Linked DNA regions of Homo sapiens: region 1 is linked to region 2. Evidence: fine-mapped expression QTL. A gene starts in region 2. The other region holds a variant in brackets. All regions are shown on one strand. Distances are from middle to middle.

Region 1 (4,384 bases), 140 kb before region 2:
CCCTGAGCCCCAGGCATACCTCCCACCACTTCCTCTTTATTTGCTTGTCTTTATCTGTCCTTCCCCCATCTGTCTTTCCCACAAACGTTAAGCTCCATTACAGCAGGAATTTTGTCTGTCTGATGGACAGCTGCATGCCTGGTGCCAGCACATGTTCGGTAAATATGAATGAATGAATGAACGAATGAATGAATGAATGAATGAATCTCCCTCTGAGGTCATGTAAACACTTCCAATTCAATGTATCCCAGATTGATTTTGTCATCTCCTCTCTCCCCATAATTTCCTTCTCCTGTCTTTGCTACCTCTCTCCTCCCAGTCCCCCAGTTTAGAAATCCCAGTGTTGGCTGGGCACGGTGGCTCACGCCTGTAATCCCAGCACTTTGGGAGGCCGAGGCAGGTGGATCATGAGGTCAGGAGATCGAGACCATCCTGGCTAACACGATGAAACCCCGTCTCTACTAAAAATACAAAAAATTAGCCGGGAGTGGTGGCGGGCACCTGTAGTCCCAGCTACTCAGGAGGTTGAGGCAGGAGAATGGTGTGAACCTGGGAGGTGGAGCTTGCAGTGAGCGGAGATCGTGCCACTGCACTCCAGCCTGGGTGACAGAGTGAGACTCCAACTCAAAAAAAAAAAAAAAAAAAGAAATCCCAGTGTCACTTAACACATCAACCCATCAACCAGTCACTGCTTTCCCAGATTCTACCTCCAATCTTTCCCACCCCACGCCACCCCAGCCCCTGGCTCACTCCTGGCTTAGACCCTCCCCGTTTGCCACCTGGATCTCCTCAACTGCTCCTCCCTCAGGCTCCCCTCCTCCGCCTTTGCTTCTGTGCTCATTGCCACTTGATTTCTCTAAAACACCACTCTTATTATGTCAACCCCTGCTTACCAACCTCATTGCATCCACATCCCATACAGTTGTGTTTCCCTAAGTGGAGGACTCACAAAGTGAGTGGCATATGGCATGATTCTAGGAGGTTCAAGGACCCCCATACCATGTACCAAAGGTGCACTGCAGTGATCTTTAGTAGTTGCAAAATGAGGAACTTGTTTCTTCTCTAACTCTGTCCAGCCTTTTGAGTACACCAAGGAGAGTCTCCCTGTTATCCTTCACATCTGTTTTTCTCTTGCTAATCTCTCGTTTTTGCAGGGATCAGGATCCCAGCCACAGCCACCAGCAGCAAGATATCAAGCTAGAATGGAAAGATAACATGGTCTTAATTTTATTTATTTTACAGTTACCTACTATATGTGACATGTGATATTGGGTCTTTAGTTATGGTAGTAATGTTCCATAAAATAAATTTATTTGGGAGACAATATTGCAAATTGCATATCTATCAAAGAAATAACATCCCAAATATATCAAGAACTCTTGGCGGGGTGCGGTGGCTCAGCACTTTGGGAGGCTGAGGCTGATGGATCACTTGAGGCCAGGAGTTCGAGACTAGGCTGGCCAACATGGCAAAACCTGTCTCTACTAAAAATGCAAAAATTAGCTGGGCATGGTGGTGTACGCCTGTAATTCCAGCTACTCAGGAAGCTGAGGCATGAGAATCACTTGAGCCCAGGAGGCGAAGGTTGCAGTGAGCCAAGATTGCACCACTGTACTCCAGCCTGGGTGACAGAGTGAAACCCTGTCTCAAAAAAAAAAAACAAAAAAAAACTCTTACTTATCAATTTAAAAAATCAATAGAAATAAAAATGGGCAAAGGCCTTAAAACTTAACAAAAGAGGATATGTGAGTGGCCAATAAACATGAAAAGTGATCAATTTCATTAGTCTCAGAGATATGCAAAACCACAGCATGATATCACTATACACCCACAGGGCTAAAGCGAAAAAGACAGTATCGAATGTTGGCAGGGGTGTGGAACAATTGGAAGTCTGATTTACTTCCAGTGAAGATATAAACTGTAACAACTACGTTGGAAACTGGCCATATCTGCTGAAGCTAAACATATCTACACTACCCTATGACCCAGGAATTCAATGCCTAGGTATAATTCCAGCAGAAATGAGTACATGGCATTTACCAAAGTCATGCACAAGCATGTTCATAGCAGCTTTATTCATCACAGCCAAAAATGAAAAATAACCTGTATGTTCATCAGTAGAATGGGTAACGTGGTATATTCACATAATAGAATTCTGTATCAAGTGAAAATGAATTAAGCCACACAAATGCTGAGCAAAAGAAGCCAGGCACAAAAAAGAGCAGTTGTTATGGTTCCATTTATATAAAACTCAAAAGCAGGCAAAATTAATCTATGCTGTTAAAGCTTGGAGAGTGGTTACCCTGTGGAGTTGTTCATTGGAGGGGGCTGCTGAAGACTCATAATATTCTGTTTTGGACCTGGGTGAAAAATTATTGTGTTCTTACACAAATGAAAAGTGATTGATTTGTGTACTCTTTCATATGTACATTATGCATCAATAAAAAA[T/A]TATTTAAATTTTTTTTTGAGACAGAGTCTTTCTCTGTGGCCCAGGCTGGAGTGCAGTGGTGCTATCACAGCTCACTGCAGCCTTGACCTCCTGAGTTCAGGCGATCCTCGACCTCCTGAGCTCAGGTGATCCTCCTGGCTCAGCCTCCTATGTAGCTGGGACCAGAGGTGCACATCACCACACCCGGCAAATTATTTGATTCTGTGTAGAGACAGGAGTCTCACTTTGTTGCCCAGGCTGGTCTTGAACTCCTGGCCTCAAGTGATCCTCCCGCCTCGGCCTCCCAAATTTCTGGGTTTGCCACGGTGGTAAGCCACCGTGATCAACCAAAATTACTTAAATTTTGGGTTTTTGTTTGTTTGCTTTTTGTTTTTTAACGTGAAACATTTAAAGACAAACATTAAGAAAATGATGCCGGGCGTGGTGGCTCACGCCTGTAATCTCAGCACTCTGGAAGGCCAAGGCAGGCGGATCATCCGAGGTCAGGAGTTCAAGACCAGGCTGCCCAACATGGAGAAACCCTGTCTCTATTAAAAATACAAAAAAAATAGCCAGGCGTGGTGGCAGGTGCCTATAATCCCAGCTACTTGAGAGGTTGAGGCAGGAGAATCGCTTGAAACAGCAAGGCGGAGGTTGCAGTGAGCCGAGATTGCGTCACTGCACTCCAGCCCGGAGCAACAAGAATGAAACTCCGTCTCAAAACAAAAAAAAAGAAAGAAAGAAAATGAAAGTTCTAGGCTCTGACAGCTTTAACTTGAAGGTACAGTGCAAATAGCAGGTATTTGGAGGAACTTTGCCTTGGATCAAGTCCAAATTGCCATGCCTGGCTTAGAGGTCCTGCATCATATTATAAAGACAGTTCCGCATGGTAGTTGAGAGCACAGATTTGGGAAAGGGGAGCTTAAAAAAAAAGAACACAGATTTGTGAAGTTGACAAACTTGACTTTGAATCTGAGCTGTGCCACTGGCTGTGGCACTCTAAGCAAGTTACCCAGACTCTCTGAGCATCAGCTTCCTTACCTATAAATCACCTTAGAGAATGATGGACTTGCTAAGTCGGGGGATGAAGAGGCCCAGCACTAAACACACTGCGTGAGTGGGATAGCTGCCTGCTGCTCCCTGAACCAGCCCTGCTGTTTCACACACACCTCCTTGCACCCCCAGGTGTTTGCACATGCCGTTCCTCTGTAATGCCTTTCCACCTGGCGATCACACTGCTCATCCTTCCATGTCTAGCTCAAGCGCCTCGTCCCATGTGATGCCAGCCCCAGATGGGGGCTGCATCACTCTTTCTGCATCATTCCACCCATGACATGTGCACGTCCGACGCTAATTATATCCTGTTTGGGCTATTTATATGGTTTGCCATTCCTGTAGCTGTTGGCACCATACTCGGCTCCTAGGAGGAGGCTTTCAGTACCTCCTTACTAGACAAATGAAAGAATGGACAACTCGTCAAATGATTCTAATTTCCCTGCAGCTTCCTGGCAGGGAGGGCCTGGTTCCTTTTGCGTGCTCATAAGAACATCAGACGTGCAGCCGTGTGTTTAGGGACCTTATCCATCTTATGGAGAACTGGCACCACAAGATGTGTTGTGGGTGAGTGGTTATCACCATGACGTCAGCCTCAAAGGTTAGGGATGTCCCCAAGTCATTCCAGTTCCCTTTAGCACCCTATATGGATAGGTCACCCATAAGAGCACCTCCAACTTCTACTTCATTGCAGAAGGGTAACAGGTTCCCTAAGCCAGGCACTTGCTGCATAAGAAAGGGATGCTTTTATTTTTTTTGAGATGGAGTCTTGTTCTGTCACCATGGCTGGAGTGTAGTTGTGCCATCTCGGCTCACTGAAACCTCCAGTTTCCAGGTTCAAGCCATTCTCCTGCCTCAGCCTCCCGAACAGTTGGGACCACAGGTGTGCACCACCACACCCAG
Region 2 (4,384 bases):
GAGAGGGAGGAGAGGGGAGATTGGGCATCATCCATACCCACCAGTCCCTGGGAGCAGGGCTACCCCTGCCTTGATTGAATAAATGAATTTCAGTATTTTCTATTTGCCAACAGCTTCAGAGAGCAAGAGGTAGGAATCCAGAGAAACTGGGAACTGGGAATCCAGAGAAACTGGGAACTGGGCAGCCAGGGTCCCCATCGTACGTCAGCGGCGGACGCCCGGCTGTAAATCCCACAGCCTGGGTGCTCACAGCTAGGCAAAGAGGCAGGGAGGAAGTGGGACATCCTAATTTAGGCATGGACTGAGTTTTCTCCACCTTAAAATGGGGACAAGTTTCCTGGACCAGGGTTGGTATGAAGCCTGATGAAAGAGCTCACCATTGAGGCTCTTTTACTAGGATCTGCCTGACAACCCCAGCCTAGCAAAGGGGCCGGACTGCCCACAAACCCAGGACAGGGACACTCACGCCTCAATGGCTTGGCAGATGCGCTCGGCCCCCAGGTTGCCCTTCCGCAGGGTGATGGCCAAGTTCTTGGCCCGGTTGGCCTCAATGAGTGTCGCCTTGCTGGGGGCCTTCTGGGCTGCCTTACTCTTGAGAGCGCTGAGGTCCAGGCTGGGGCCTTGGGACTTGGTCTTGAACTGTTCCTCAAAATCACTCATGTCTAGCTCCTGAAGGTACAGGGTGAGGAGGCGGAGCTGGGTGGGGCTGGGGTCTGGCACTCTCCTGGCTGAGCACAGTGCTAGAGCCATCCATCTGGCCCTGACCAGGCCACCAGCAGAGAACCAGTAACCCAGCCTGACCACAGGCCCTGATGGGAGGCACAGGGGAAGCACAGGGAGCCTGGAGGAGGAGGGCCGCCTAACCCGGGGGATCCAGACTTGGGGCCACAAGAGCTAAAGGAAGAGCTGAACTGGCCAGCGGTAAAAAGGAGAAAGGAAAAGACATTCCAGGCAGAGGAAACAGAATGGAACAATGGCCTAGAGGCAAGAGAATACATCCTTTTGGAAAACTGGAAGTGGAATCAGGAGGGCTGAAGCCTTGGCTGCCTGTGGGAAAGTGGAAGGAAAGAGGCCTGGAGGCAGAAGAAGTGGGGTGAGGGGAGGCACCCCTCTGCAGGGATGGAGGGGAAGGCGTTTGGGAAAGCAGGATTCTGCCTGTTAGAGGTATTGGTCCAGTCTGGCTTAATGCCCATCCCTGGGCCTCCCCCTCCTCATCTGTGAAATGGCTTGGAGAAAATGACTACCCCCAGGGCCCAGCCTGATCCAGGCAACTCCCCTCTTCCTCCGGTGCCCACATGGGGAGCCAGGCAGGGCCACTCACCTGCAGCACCTTCTCATCATTGAGCTCTGTGAAGACAGTGCCGGTGATCTGGCTGGGTTTCAGTGCCACCCAGTTCAAGAGTGGCATTCGGAACTTAGTCTGGATGGGCTTCTTGGCCTTCACTCCTGGGACGGGGGTTTGGGGGCAGTGGTGAGCACTGGGGGTACTACTGGAGGGAACCTGGGCCCAGGGAGGGCTGATGGGGCAGCCAGGAGGCAGCAGGAGGCCCCCAGGCAGAGGACCCTGGAGGACACTGAGGCCCAGGCCCCTCCCTCCATCTCCCCCCAGCCCCGGGCCCAAGGTGGTCCACTCCACTCACCTGGGCCCAATTCTGAGTCGCGTCTTCCTAGGGCATCAGGAGGACCTCCGGGAGGCGGCGGCGGCGGCGGCGGCGGCGGAGGCACCGGCCCGTCAGTGCCCGGAGGTGGTGGCGGTGGCGGGGGTGGGGGCGGCAGGTCTCCGGGCAGCGGCGGCGCAGGCGGGGGCTCCGGGCTGCCAGGGAGAGGCGGGGCCTGTGGGGGCGCAGAGGGCGGGGCTTCCTGCGGGGAGGGGAGGCCGGGCAGTGGGGGCGGCGGCGGTGGCGCTGCTCCGGGAGCCGGCTCTGCTGCAGGTGCGAGATCTGAGCCAGCGAGGGCGCGGCGTGGGGGAGGCGCGAGTCAGCTCCTTGACTTGGGTGGGCCCCTCTCCGCCTCTCCGCTCTACGCATGCGCTCCTACCTGAGCCGAGCCTACAATCCAAACCTCCCTCGCCCAACTCTGCCCGCCACAGATGCCCCTGGGCTCCCCTCCAGACCCTGCCCCGCATCCCCGCCAGCCTGAAGCTCCTGCGCACCTGGGCTGGGGGAGCCGGTCGGCACCCCCGGAGTCGGAGCATCACCGCCGCTCGGAGTTGCCACAGCGACGGGGAGGATCTCGATGGAGACAGCATCCCCCGGCCCCCGCAGAATACGGATTAACCCCTTCTCCTCCAGCTCCTCCACCTTCAGCTCCAGGGCCGAGGGCCGCGTCGGGGCAGCGGGAGGCGCTTTCTCAGGCTCTGGGGGACGCCTGGAGGGCCCCATGGCGGTCGATTCGCTGAAGCGCTCCTACGAACCCCACGGGAGGGGTCAGTGCCCACCAGCAGGCTCCTTGGCACCAAGCCTCCATCTTCTTCCCGGGGTGGAGGGAGATGTCAAGCCTAGAAGCCTCAGCTGGCCTGTTCTTGGGCGCCTGGCCTACCACCCGCCCCAGCCTCACCCGCAGGGTCTCCAACTCCTTGCGCGCCTGGCTTAGCTGTTTTTCCAGTTCTGCAATCTTGGCCATGGATTCGTTCTCCGCGTCCCGAAGCCGCTCTGTCAGCTGTAGCACCAGCACATGGTGAGCCCCGACCCGCAGCCCGGCACTGGCACCGCCGGTGAGGGGGCGGCATCAGGCATGCCTGCCTGGAAGACTGGGGGAGGCTCCCAGATCCGCTCAGCCCAGGTGCCAAGGGTGGGCCGAGCCTGGCACTCGAACCCAAGCAAATAAGGAGAGGAAACCAAGGTACCAGTGATGCGGGAGGTGGAGGGAGAGGAGGAGACTGAGCTGGGAGGGGCCCCAGGCACCCATTTCAGTTCACCTGGGGTCTGAGCCTGGGTAGAGGAGGGGCCTGTCAGTGAGGGTGCTCACCCACACTCATTGAGAAAGACACCCAACAGATTCAGGCTTTGGATTCAGGCCAGGCTCTGGGGCCAGGCAGGCAGCACCTCCAATGCACAATTATAACACTGTCTGCTGCCCAGTGCCCATGCTTGCGTGGCCCTGTGGCCCGTGTGCCCTGTGGGCCTATGATGTGCTGGGCTGGGGTCAGGACCCACTCTCACCAGCGCCACTTGCTCCTGCAGTTCCTCCATGTGCTCCAGCACAGCGTTCTTGGTCTCTGTGTCCTCCAGCAGCGCCCCCACATCAAAAATATTGTCCAGGTACGCCTGGATCTGCACCTGCAGCTTGTCACTCTCGGTGAGCCGAAGCCTCTGTCCCCCAGATGGAAGGAGTGGGGTGAGGCCTGGTGTGTGTGTGGGGGGGAGTCTTTCCAAACCACCCCCCTGCCACCACTGCCATCCAGAGGAAGGGGCCTGAGCCCTAGCCTACTTTTTCTTTATTTTTTAATATATAATTCACAAATCATAAAATCCATTTTAAAGTGTACAATTCAGTCATTCTTAGTATAGCCACAAGGTTGTGCAACCATCACCATTATCTAATTCCAGAACATTGTCATCAGCCCAAAAAGAAACCCCACAGGCGTCAGCAGTCACTTGCCATTCTCTCCTCCCCCAGTCCCTGGCAACCACTAATCTACTTTCCATCTTTATGGATTTACCCATTCTGGACATTTCATATAAAGCAATCATAGATAGCTGGGCGAGGTGGCTCATGCCTGTAATCCCAGCACTGTGGGAGGCTGAGGCAGACGGATCACCTAAGGTCAGGAGTTCAAGACCAACCTGGCCAACGTGGTGAAACCCCCGTCTCTACCAAAAATACAAAAATTAACCGAGTGTGGTGGTGGGCACCTATAATCCCAACTACTGGGGAGGCTGGAAAATCACTTGAACCCGGGAGGCAGAGGTTGCAGTGAGCCAAGATCGTGTCACTGCACTCTAGCCTGGGCAACAGAGCAAGACTCCATCTCAAAAAAAAAGCAATCATAGAGTACGTGACCTTTTGTGTCTGGCTTCTTTCACTTAGCATGTTTTCAAGGCTCACCCATGTTGTACCATGTGTCAATACTTCATTCCTTCTTGTGGCTGAATAATACTCCATTGCACAGATAGACCCCCCCGCCAGCCTGCTCTCTACCTTTTGTTAATCCTGGCTTTCAAAAATCCAACCCCGAAAGCCCCGCTCCTCCAGGAAACCTCCCAAAGGAAGCAGAGAAGGAGCTGCAGCTTCTCTGCTCAGCCTGGGCCAGGAAGCACCAAGCAGCTCTGCCCACCTTCCCCAGGGCAGGGAACTCCTCCATGTCCTGGGCCCATCCAGCATGAGCCAACTCCTGCTTCTACCCTGTATCTCTGGGTTCCCCATTATATGCTGGAGTCAGAGC

The links. PIP is the estimated chance that this variant, and not a neighbour inherited with it, causes the effect. A credible set is the group of variants that fine-mapping cannot tell apart.
Region 1: its variant is the best candidate, but not a certain one, in a credible set for the expression of FMNL1-AS1 in esophagus mucosa (GTEx, PIP 0.52).

The regions. Positions count from the first base shown.
Region 1 is chr17:45,379,952-45,384,335 of GRCh38, reverse strand. No RefSeq gene overlaps it. Among named protein-coding and RNA genes, the nearest start is that of ARHGAP27, 51 kb to the left of the region's middle. The variant T/A (reference allele first, on the strand shown) is at 2,449.
Region 2 is chr17:45,239,403-45,243,786 of GRCh38, reverse strand. It overlaps FMNL1-AS1 (FMNL1 antisense RNA 1), which reads left to right and starts at 2,017. Exons shown (of 3, transcript NR_186808.1): 1 at 2,017-2,676; 2 at 3,183-3,297. It overlaps FMNL1 (formin like 1), which reads right to left. Exons shown (of 27, transcript NM_005892.4): 12 at 3,162-3,311; 13 at 2,557-2,658; 14 at 2,153-2,405; 15 at 1,641-1,940; 16 at 1,322-1,446; 17 at 467-669. RefSeq lists an enhancer at 1,907-2,625.